Linked DNA regions of Homo sapiens: region 1 is linked to region 2. The links come from fine-mapping of genetic effects on gene expression. A gene starts in region 2. The other region holds a variant in brackets. All regions are shown on one strand. Distances are from middle to middle.

Region 1 (4,388 bases), 130 kb after region 2:
CCCTCTTCCTAAGAGAAACTCAATTCGTTGTAATCAGCAACATATTCCCAACAGGAAAATCACATTTCAAGCCTTCCTTTAGATAGGTGACTACATTTTGGCCAGTGAGATAGGAGTGAAAGTTGTCAGATGGGCTCCTCCTGACAACTCCTTTAGAAGGGGCTGACCCAGCTGTCAGCCATTTGCCCTGGTGTGTCCTCCTCTCTACTGACTACAATATAGGTGTGATGGCTAGAGTAGCAGCTGCTATCTTGGGACAAGGGGAGACCTTGGGGTAAACAGAACCTAGGATAGTAAAGCAGAAAGATAGAAGAGCCTGGGCTGATGATGATGTGGCAGAACTGCCAAACAAGCTCTGGACTGCTAATCTCTGGACTTAACTTTCAGGAAACAAAATTAAACTCTATCTGGCTCAAGCCACTCTTACTTTATGGACCAAGAGCATTGGCAGCACTTGGGAGCTTGTTAGAAAGGCAGCTTCTCAGGCCCCTTCCCAGGCCAAATGAGTGACGATCGGCTTTGTAGCAAGATCCACAGGTGATTTGCATGCACAGTAAAGTTTGGGAAGCACTGCTCCAGATGTAGTTAGTTTCTCTGTTTATGAAATTATTAACTGATATATCCTGGGAAATAATGAATTCTATTTGCCGGTACTAAAACATGGTAAGAATGATATAACCATAGGATAAAACAACTAAAATGCCCTGAGTTATTTGGATACAAAGAAAGAAAGCATTCATGTCAATTAGGTAATTGATGTTCCAGCCACTATACCTGGCACCAGAGAAGTAAAGATATCCCTGCTCTAGACTCCATGGTCTAACAAGGGAGACATATAGATACTGTGTATTGTGTTGCATTGCATTATAAGAACCGTTTGGATGCAATAAGAGCTATGCCCAGGTGTTCCGGGAAAACAGATGAGGGGTCTAAGCCTTCCCTCCTGGGCTAGGGAGTAAGTTAGAGAAAACTTCTTGGAAGAGATGTCACCTGAGTAGTTAAGAATTATCTTGCTTCTTCCCCCAGTTTCAGGGATCAGAGGCCATCCTTTGTGGGCTTAAGTCAGCCTGCTGGCCTCCCCAGCTGCTCCTTAAATTCTAAGAGTTGGCATAAAAGACACAGGTTACAACACGAATGTCTTCATCCTACACGATCTTTACTTTCTCTGTTCACAATGTGGGCTCCTTGGCTCCATTTTACATATACAGGAAATTTGGACACCGAATAGAGAGTGAATTTCAAAGGATTCAGAGAAGGCAAACCCATATGAGTGTTTAGAGTTCATTGATCACTAGTATCTTCTTAATTTTGTGAACACCGGGTTCTGAATTCCTTCATTGACTAGCTATTTCTCTTCATGTCTTCTACAAACATTCTGAAGTTGGAAATCCTTTTTATTGGTGTTTAGAATAAGTCAATGTTTTTCCTCTCTTTATATTTCTACTTGATATTCCTCAGTTTTCTGTATTATTAAAAATGAAATCACATTTTTGGATACTTGTGGTTTGGCCGGCTGGTTGGGAAACTTTTCTGGCATTCATTATTGCTTTTTTCTTTCCATTTAAAGAACATTTACTGGATTTGGTACTTGGCGAAAGAAACTGACAAATTAAGAAATGAGAGAGAGAATAAATGCACTGTGCATGCTGAAACCCCAAGAAGACTTTTTTTCTCCTACTTTTTATGGACCTGAGGTGTTGGAAATGGAAACATTGTTTCAAACAAAATCCAGATTTTTATCTCTCTCCCCAAGAGATATGGCTTTAATCTTTTTTCTTTTCTTCTGCTGCTTTTCTGAAACACTCTGCTAGGGGCTGATTTCCTCTTCTTTGAAACAGACCAAAATATCCCTGTGGGTGAAAAACATGCCGGAAGTGAAACAGAAAGACTCAGCTTGCCCCGTGTTCGTGGTCTGTCAACTTCTCTAGCCAGTGCCTGGATCCACAGCTCACTGCTGCCGGTTGCCCTGCGTTAGCCGCATTGCGGGGGAGACAGGAGAGGCTTGAAGGCTTTTTATATTCTACTCTCTTCTGAAGAATTCACAAGTTAGCAAGCACTCAACCACTACTAACCAGAAGGTATTGCCAACCATAACAAACTACACCCATCAACAAGGCCTCCCTCATATTGCAATCCCAGCAGAAAATGATGCAGGAAAAGCACTCCCCAAATCTTGGTTGCCTGCCACCCAAGTTCTTATGCCAAGATATGTGTTTAGCCAGTTCTAAGATGCTGCCACCTTTTCATGTGTCCAACACTAGGCTTTCTACCATAGTTCCCTCCACCCAGAATGTGTTACTTGGCTCCTACAAATGCAAGAGGAAGTGCCCTTCCCTGAACAGAAATCAAAACACAGGGTGAAACCACGACTTGTTTTCAACAGGCCTCCTGTTGTGAGCCCTCCCAGCTGTGCTGCCTTTCTCCAAGAGAGCTGGGACTGGCGGCTCGAAGCGGTATAAATGGCCTGTGCCTCTTCCTGAGGCTGCCTGTAACAAGTGTCTCAAGAGCAATT[C/T]GTCATCGGCTGGAGATTACCAACTTGGCTCACTGAACCAGATCGTGCTTTGTCACATGTGAAATTCTGATGTTCTAATACATGGCTTGTTTGCAAACTACGCCTTAAATAAATATATTCAGGATATTTAACAATATAGTGTTCTGAATTAGACCATCATTTACATCTGTATTTATTCAATAATCATTTACTAAGTGCCAAATACATGCCGAGTACTATGCCGAGTGCAACAGTTAAAACGCAGGAAAAAGATCGTATTGCCCTTACTGGGCTATAAATTCAAATCTCTGTCTCATCTCATCAAGCAATCTTTCCGCCTTGGCCTCCCAAAGTGCTGGAATTATAGGCATGAACCACCACACCTGACCCAGGAGAGTTTTCTTTAACGAGTGATGCTTGATCTCAGTTTTGAAAAGTATAGAGGTGTTCACCTAGAGGAGAGGAAAGAACAGAGCATTCTGGAAAGAGGACTGTGGAGCAAAGGCAAAGAGATATTACATAGCCTGGCATGGTTTGGGAACTATAAGCAGTTGAAGTTGGTAGTGAATGGGGCATGAGAGGAAGGGGAGGTAGGCAGAGGCATGATCGTAGAGAACCCTGTATTCCAATCCAAGAATCAAAGTCATCATCCTGAAGGCTGTGGGGGCAATATTGAGGAGATTCCCAGAAAATGAGTGATATTTACTTGTCTTCATGACAGCAAATTGAACAGCAGGGGTTGAAAACAGGGGAAGGCTAAGTAGCAGATCATTGCAATAGACCAGAAAAATGAAGGCTTGAAACTTCAACGGGCAACAGGGATGAAGAGTTGAGAACAGATTTGAGAGAAGTGAAAGGAGTAGGATCTGCAGAACTTGGAGACTGACCGGATTCTGGAAGATTAAGGAGATGGAGATGTCAAGGGTGAATGGTTCCCAGTTTATTATTTAGGAACCCGAAGGAATGCTGGTGTGTGCGGAATTGGTGGGTTCTTGGTCTCACTGACTTCAAAAATGAAACCACGGACCCTCGCGAAGAGTATTACAGTTTTTTTAAAAAAAAAAAAAAAAAGACGGAGTCTCGCTCTTTAGACCAGGCCGGACTGCAGTGGCCCTATCTCGGCTCACTGCAAGCTCCGCCTCCTGGGTTCATGCCATTCTCCTGCCTCAGCCTCCCAAGTAGCTGAGATTACAGGCCCCCGCCACCGTGCCCAGCTAATTTTTTGTATTTTTAGTAGAGACAGGGTTTTACCGTGTTAGCCAGGATGGTCTCGATATCCTGACCTCGTGATCCACCCGCCTTGGCCTCCCAAAGTGCTGGGATTACATGTTACAGTTCTTAAAGGCGTCGTGTCCAGAGTTTGTTCCTTCTGATATTCGGATGTGTTCAGAGTTTCTTCCTTCTGGTGGATTCCTGGTCTCGCAAGCTCAGGAGTGAAGCTGCAGACCTTCCCGGTGAGTGTTACAGCTCTTAAGTCGGAGAGTCTGGAGTTGTTCATTCCTCCGGGTGGGTTCATGGTCTCGCTGGCTTCAGGAGTGAAGCTGCAGACCTTCCCTGTGAGTGTTACAGCTCATAAGGGGAATGTGGACCCAAAGAGTGAGCACCAGCAAAATTTATTGCAGAGCGAAAGAACAAAGCTTCCACAGTATGGAAGGTGACGGGTTGTCACTGCTGGCTCGGGCAGCCTGCGTTTGGTCTCTTATCTGGCCCCACCCACATCCTGCTGATTGGTCCACTTTACAGAGAGCTGATTGGTCTGTTTTACAGAGAGCCGATTGGTCCGTTTTGACAGGGTGCTGATTGGTTCATTTACAATCCCTGAGCCAGACACAAAAGTGAGTGCTGATTGGTGCATTTACAAACCTTGAGCTAGATAGAGTGCTGATTGGTGTATTCA
Region 2 (4,388 bases):
AGTGAGACTGTGGGATGGACAGGGGATGGGAGGGAGGGAGGGAGATTATATTAGCATAATTAGTACCAGCTGCCTCAGCAATCTCTGAAATTTCAGTGGCTTAGTCGGACAAAGGATTTTTCTCTCACAAAGTATGATTGGGGTCGGTGACTCAGGGACCCAGGCTCCCTCTGTCTTCCGGTATCTCCAAGGAAGGAGAAGAAAGGAGGGATGGAAAGCCCCATGGTTCTGACCGAATGAAGCGATGATGTGGCATGGTGGATCTCCCGGGGAAGAGGGCTCCAGGGAGAGAGAAAAGCGAAGGCAAAAACTTCAGCAAGAAACGTGCTTGACTTGTCCCAAAAATAGCAAAGCAACCACTGTGGCTTCTTTCAGTGGAAAAGGGGGCTGGAAAGATAGCCAAGGGCCAGGCTATCTAAGGCCTCTCAGGCCAAGGGAGGAAGTAAGAAAATGCAATTGTTTGGGGTCATTTAGTGTCCCCTAAAAACTTTACAGAAGCATATGGGTGGTTATAATGATTGTGTAAACTAAACTGTGAATAATATGCTCCATTTTCTAGAGAAATCTTTACAAAATGTGTTACTGTATCTATTTCCCTGAGTGAACAGTTATAGGTTGTTAATACTGGAGCACAATTTTCTACATATCTAAGACCCTCTAGAGGTAGGGGTTTTCCTGCCACTAGTGGCCATAGGGCCAAACATCATGACAGCCTGTCCTCATCCTTCTGGAAGCCTGATGCGCGGCAAGCACAGAGGCCTCCCACTGGACTCCTACAAAGTAAGCACCTGCAGACGCCCATGCCCCAGTGCTACAAACAACCTTGGACACCCAATAATTCCTCAACCACCATTTCTACAGAGTAGCTCAACCAGTCTGTAAAAAATCATCACCTTAAACTCCTGGAATTTTCACACCTGAAATAAGCCCAAAGTTACTGTACTTAACTCTAATCTAAAAAGTAACTACTAAACGAACAGAAGGGGCGAAACTAAATTTATTTATCTTACATATTCTAGGTTAGCTTTTCAGAAGTAAAATGAGTCATATTCTAGAGGTTTAGTTAATGTGGACTTCATGTTTCTGACCACATGAAATGTTGGCATTGAAATTCAATGATCCCTGTTGCTTACTGTGAGAATAGTCAAAACCCAGAATTTTCAGCTAAAAATGTAATTTAGAATATGCTTACTGAATTGAATTAAGGTTTTGCATTAGGATAAACACTGTGGGAGTGATTCTGGTATAGTGGGTTTGTGTTTTTGTGCAAGATGCTTACAATACCACAGCCCTTAGAATAATTGTACACTCTTCTGGCCCGTTTCCCAGGTTTCCTTGAAAAGGGTCAGAGGACAGGCTGAAATTAATGACACATGAATGCAGAACCTCAATTAGAAGTGTCTTCAAAGGAATAATTAGGCTAGACTTAATAAGAGGGGATTAAGAGAAGAAAAAGCTTTGGGCAAATTATACACTGAAGGAAAGGAAGATAGGAAACAAGGCAACGATAGATTGGAGCTGATTATTTCAGGAAGTGATTTTTGTTCTATTTATCTTAAAAATAATATAAATATAGTGAGACATAGAGACAACAGATGGATGGATGGTCACTGACCTCTTACTAGGAGTGGCAATGTGAACATTGGGACGCTTCCTGGTGCATGTACCCTGCAATTGTTAGTTTAGTACCCCTATTCCCTTTGTGAAAGAGGCCAGGGATTTTGCTTCCCCCAAATAACAGTAACAGCAGCAAAAGCAGCAACAAACCCTTCAAATCTGCTTACCCTGCCAGATATTGTTTCACTTTCCTCATCTGTAAAATAGGGATTACTTTATGATGGAATCCCCACAACAACCCCCGGAGGTAGGTACGATATAAGTGCCTTGTTCCAGGTCATACAGCTAGGTAGTGTCAGAACACAGATTGAAATTCAGAAGCCTGGCTCCGAAGTTTGAGCTCTCATTCACCGCACTACATATATCTATGGGAGGATAGGCGACACATGCATGTAATAAATGTGTGAGCATTTATTGTACTGGAAACTCTCCAGCTCCTCCCTCTCTACATGATCCTTTGCTTCTAATTTTGTCAATCACAGCACCTTCCCTGGCCCTTACTTTGTTCTTGCCAATCTCCTCTCCTTGAGCAGAAGAGGGAAGGGAGCCTGCTCTGTAGGTGAACAGCTCCTCCGCAGAGGCATCCTGTTTTCTTAGTGCAATCACTAATTCGCATTGCAAAATGCTTTATTACATGACTGGGTTGCCATTCTAGGAGCATTCACTGAGCGCTCAGAGTGGGAACGTTTATCAGGCATGCAAATGCTAACTTACTTTCTAGAGAATGTTTAACTTAAAAGCCTAAAGAAATCTCAGATAATTCACTTCGGAGTAGAAACCTCCTTCAGCCGCGCTCACTACGGCGCCCGGCTTCGCGGCACCGGCCACTAGAGGGCAGTGGCCGCCGCAAAGCCGACGCGGGCGGTGGGCTCGGCGGCTCGGCCATCGCTTGCTCTCGCCTGGCAAGGGGCTCTCGGCCGTGGATTAGCGCAGCTGGAGACGTGGGAGGCCGCGGGCCCCGCCCCCGACCGGCGGCGGCTGCGGCGGCCCAGCGCGGCAGTCGGCGCTGCGAAGTGGAGGCGCTGCGAGCGGAGCCGCGCGGAGGGCGCGACCGGCTGGTCCGGGCAGCGTGGGTTTGCCGCCTTCGGGGCTCCAGTCCGCGCGCCAGGGCTCGAGCAGTACCGCGGGCCCCTCAGGTGGGCCTCGGCTCGGGACGCCGGGAGTCGGGACCGCCAGTCGGGGCGCCGGGACCATGGCGCTGCGCGCCCGGGCGCTGTACGACTTCAGGTCGGAGAACCCAGGAGAGATCTCGCTGCGAGAGCACGAGGTGCTGAGCCTGTGCAGCGAGCAGGACATCGAGGGCTGGCTCGAGGGGGTCAACAGCCGCGGCGACCGCGGCCTCTTCCCGGCCTCCTATGTGCAGGTGATCCGCGCCCCCGAGCCTGGCCCGGCGGGAGACGGCGGCCCGGGCGCCCCGGCCCGCTACGCCAATGTGCCCCCCGGGGGCTTCGAGCCCCTGCCTGTCGCGCCCCCCGCCTCCTTCAAGCCGCCGCCTGACGCCTTCCAGGCGCTGCTGCAGCCACAGCAGGCGCCGCCTCCGAGCACCTTCCAGCCGCCCGGCGCGGGCTTCCCGTACGGCGGGGGCGCCCTGCAGCCGTCGCCTCAGCAGCTCTACGGCGGCTACCAGGCCAGCCAAGGCAGCGATGATGACTGGGACGACGAGTGGGACGACAGCTCCACGGTGGCGGACGAGCCGGGCGCTCTGGGCAGCGGAGCATACCCGGACCTCGACGGCTCGTCTTCGGCGGGTGTGGGCGCAGCCGGCCGCTACCGCCTGTCCACGCGCTCCGACCTGTCCCTGGGTTCCCGCGGCGGCTCGGTCCCCCCGCAGCACCACCCGTCGGGGCCCAAGAGCTCGGCCACCGTGAGCCGCAACCTCAATCGCTTCTCCACCTTCGTCAAGTCCGGCGGGGAGGCCTTCGTGCTGGGGGAGGCGTCAGGCTTCGTGAAGGACGGGGACAAGCTGTGCGTGGTGCTGGGGCCCTATGGCCCCGAGTGGCAGGAGAACCCCTACCCGTTCCAGTGCACCATCGACGACCCCACCAAGCAGACCAAGTTCAAGGGCATGAAGAGCTACATCTCCTACAAGCTGGTGCCCACGCACACGCAGGTGCCGGTGCATCGGCGCTACAAGCACTTCGACTGGCTGTACGCGCGCCTGGCGGAGAAGTTCCCGGTCATCTCCGTGCCCCACCTGCCCGAGAAGCAGGCCACCGGCCGCTTCGAGGAGGACTTCATCTCTAAGCGCAGGAAGGGCCTGATCTGGTGGATGAACCACATGGCCAGCCACCCAGTGCTGGCGCAGTGCGACGTCTTCCAGCACTTCCTGACGTGCCCCAGCAGCACCGACGAGAAAGCCTGGAAGCAGGGCAAGAGGAAGGCCGAGAAGGACGAGATGGTGGGCGCCAACTTCTTCCTGACCCTTAGCACGCCCCCCGCCGCTGCCCTTGACCTGCAGGAGGTGGAGAGCAAGATCGACGGCTTCAAGTGCTTCACCAAGAAGATGGACGACAGCGCGCTGCAGCTCAACCACACGGCCAACGAGTTCGCGCGCAAGCAGGTGACCGGCTTCAAAAAGGAGTATCAGAAGGTGGGCCAGTCCTTCCGCGGCCTCAGCCAGGCCTTTGAGCTGGACCAGCAGGCCTTCTCGGTGGGCCTGAACCAGGCTATCGCCTTCACCGGAGATGCCTATGACGCCATTGGCGAGCTCTTCGCGGAGCAGCCCAGGCAGGACCTGGATCCCGTCATGGACCTATTAGCGCTGTATCAGG

Alleles and levels. Positions count from the first base shown, and alleles are read on the strand shown. Sizes are in standard deviations (SD) of each study's normalised expression.
For the expression in atrial appendage of the gene that starts at base 2,616 in region 2, C is the high allele of the variant in region 1 and T is the other (small effect, 0.35 SD a copy in GTEx).

The links. PIP is the estimated chance that this variant, and not a neighbour inherited with it, causes the effect.
Region 1: its variant is fine-mapped to the expression of SNX18 in atrial appendage (GTEx, PIP 0.98).

Annotation. Positions count from the first base shown.
Region 1 is chr5:54,644,502-54,648,889 of GRCh38, forward strand. It overlaps a transcript of SNX18 not described here. Among named protein-coding and RNA genes, the nearest start is that of LINC02998, 98 kb to the right of the region's middle. The variant C/T (reference allele first, on the strand shown) is at 2,513.
Region 2 is chr5:54,515,144-54,519,531 of GRCh38, forward strand. SNX18 (sorting nexin 18) reads left to right here and starts at 2,616. Exons shown (of 2, transcript NM_001102575.2): 1 at 2,616-4,388. The coding sequence starts at 2,810. RefSeq lists silencers at 2,370-2,611, 2,492-3,051 and an enhancer at 3,524-4,388.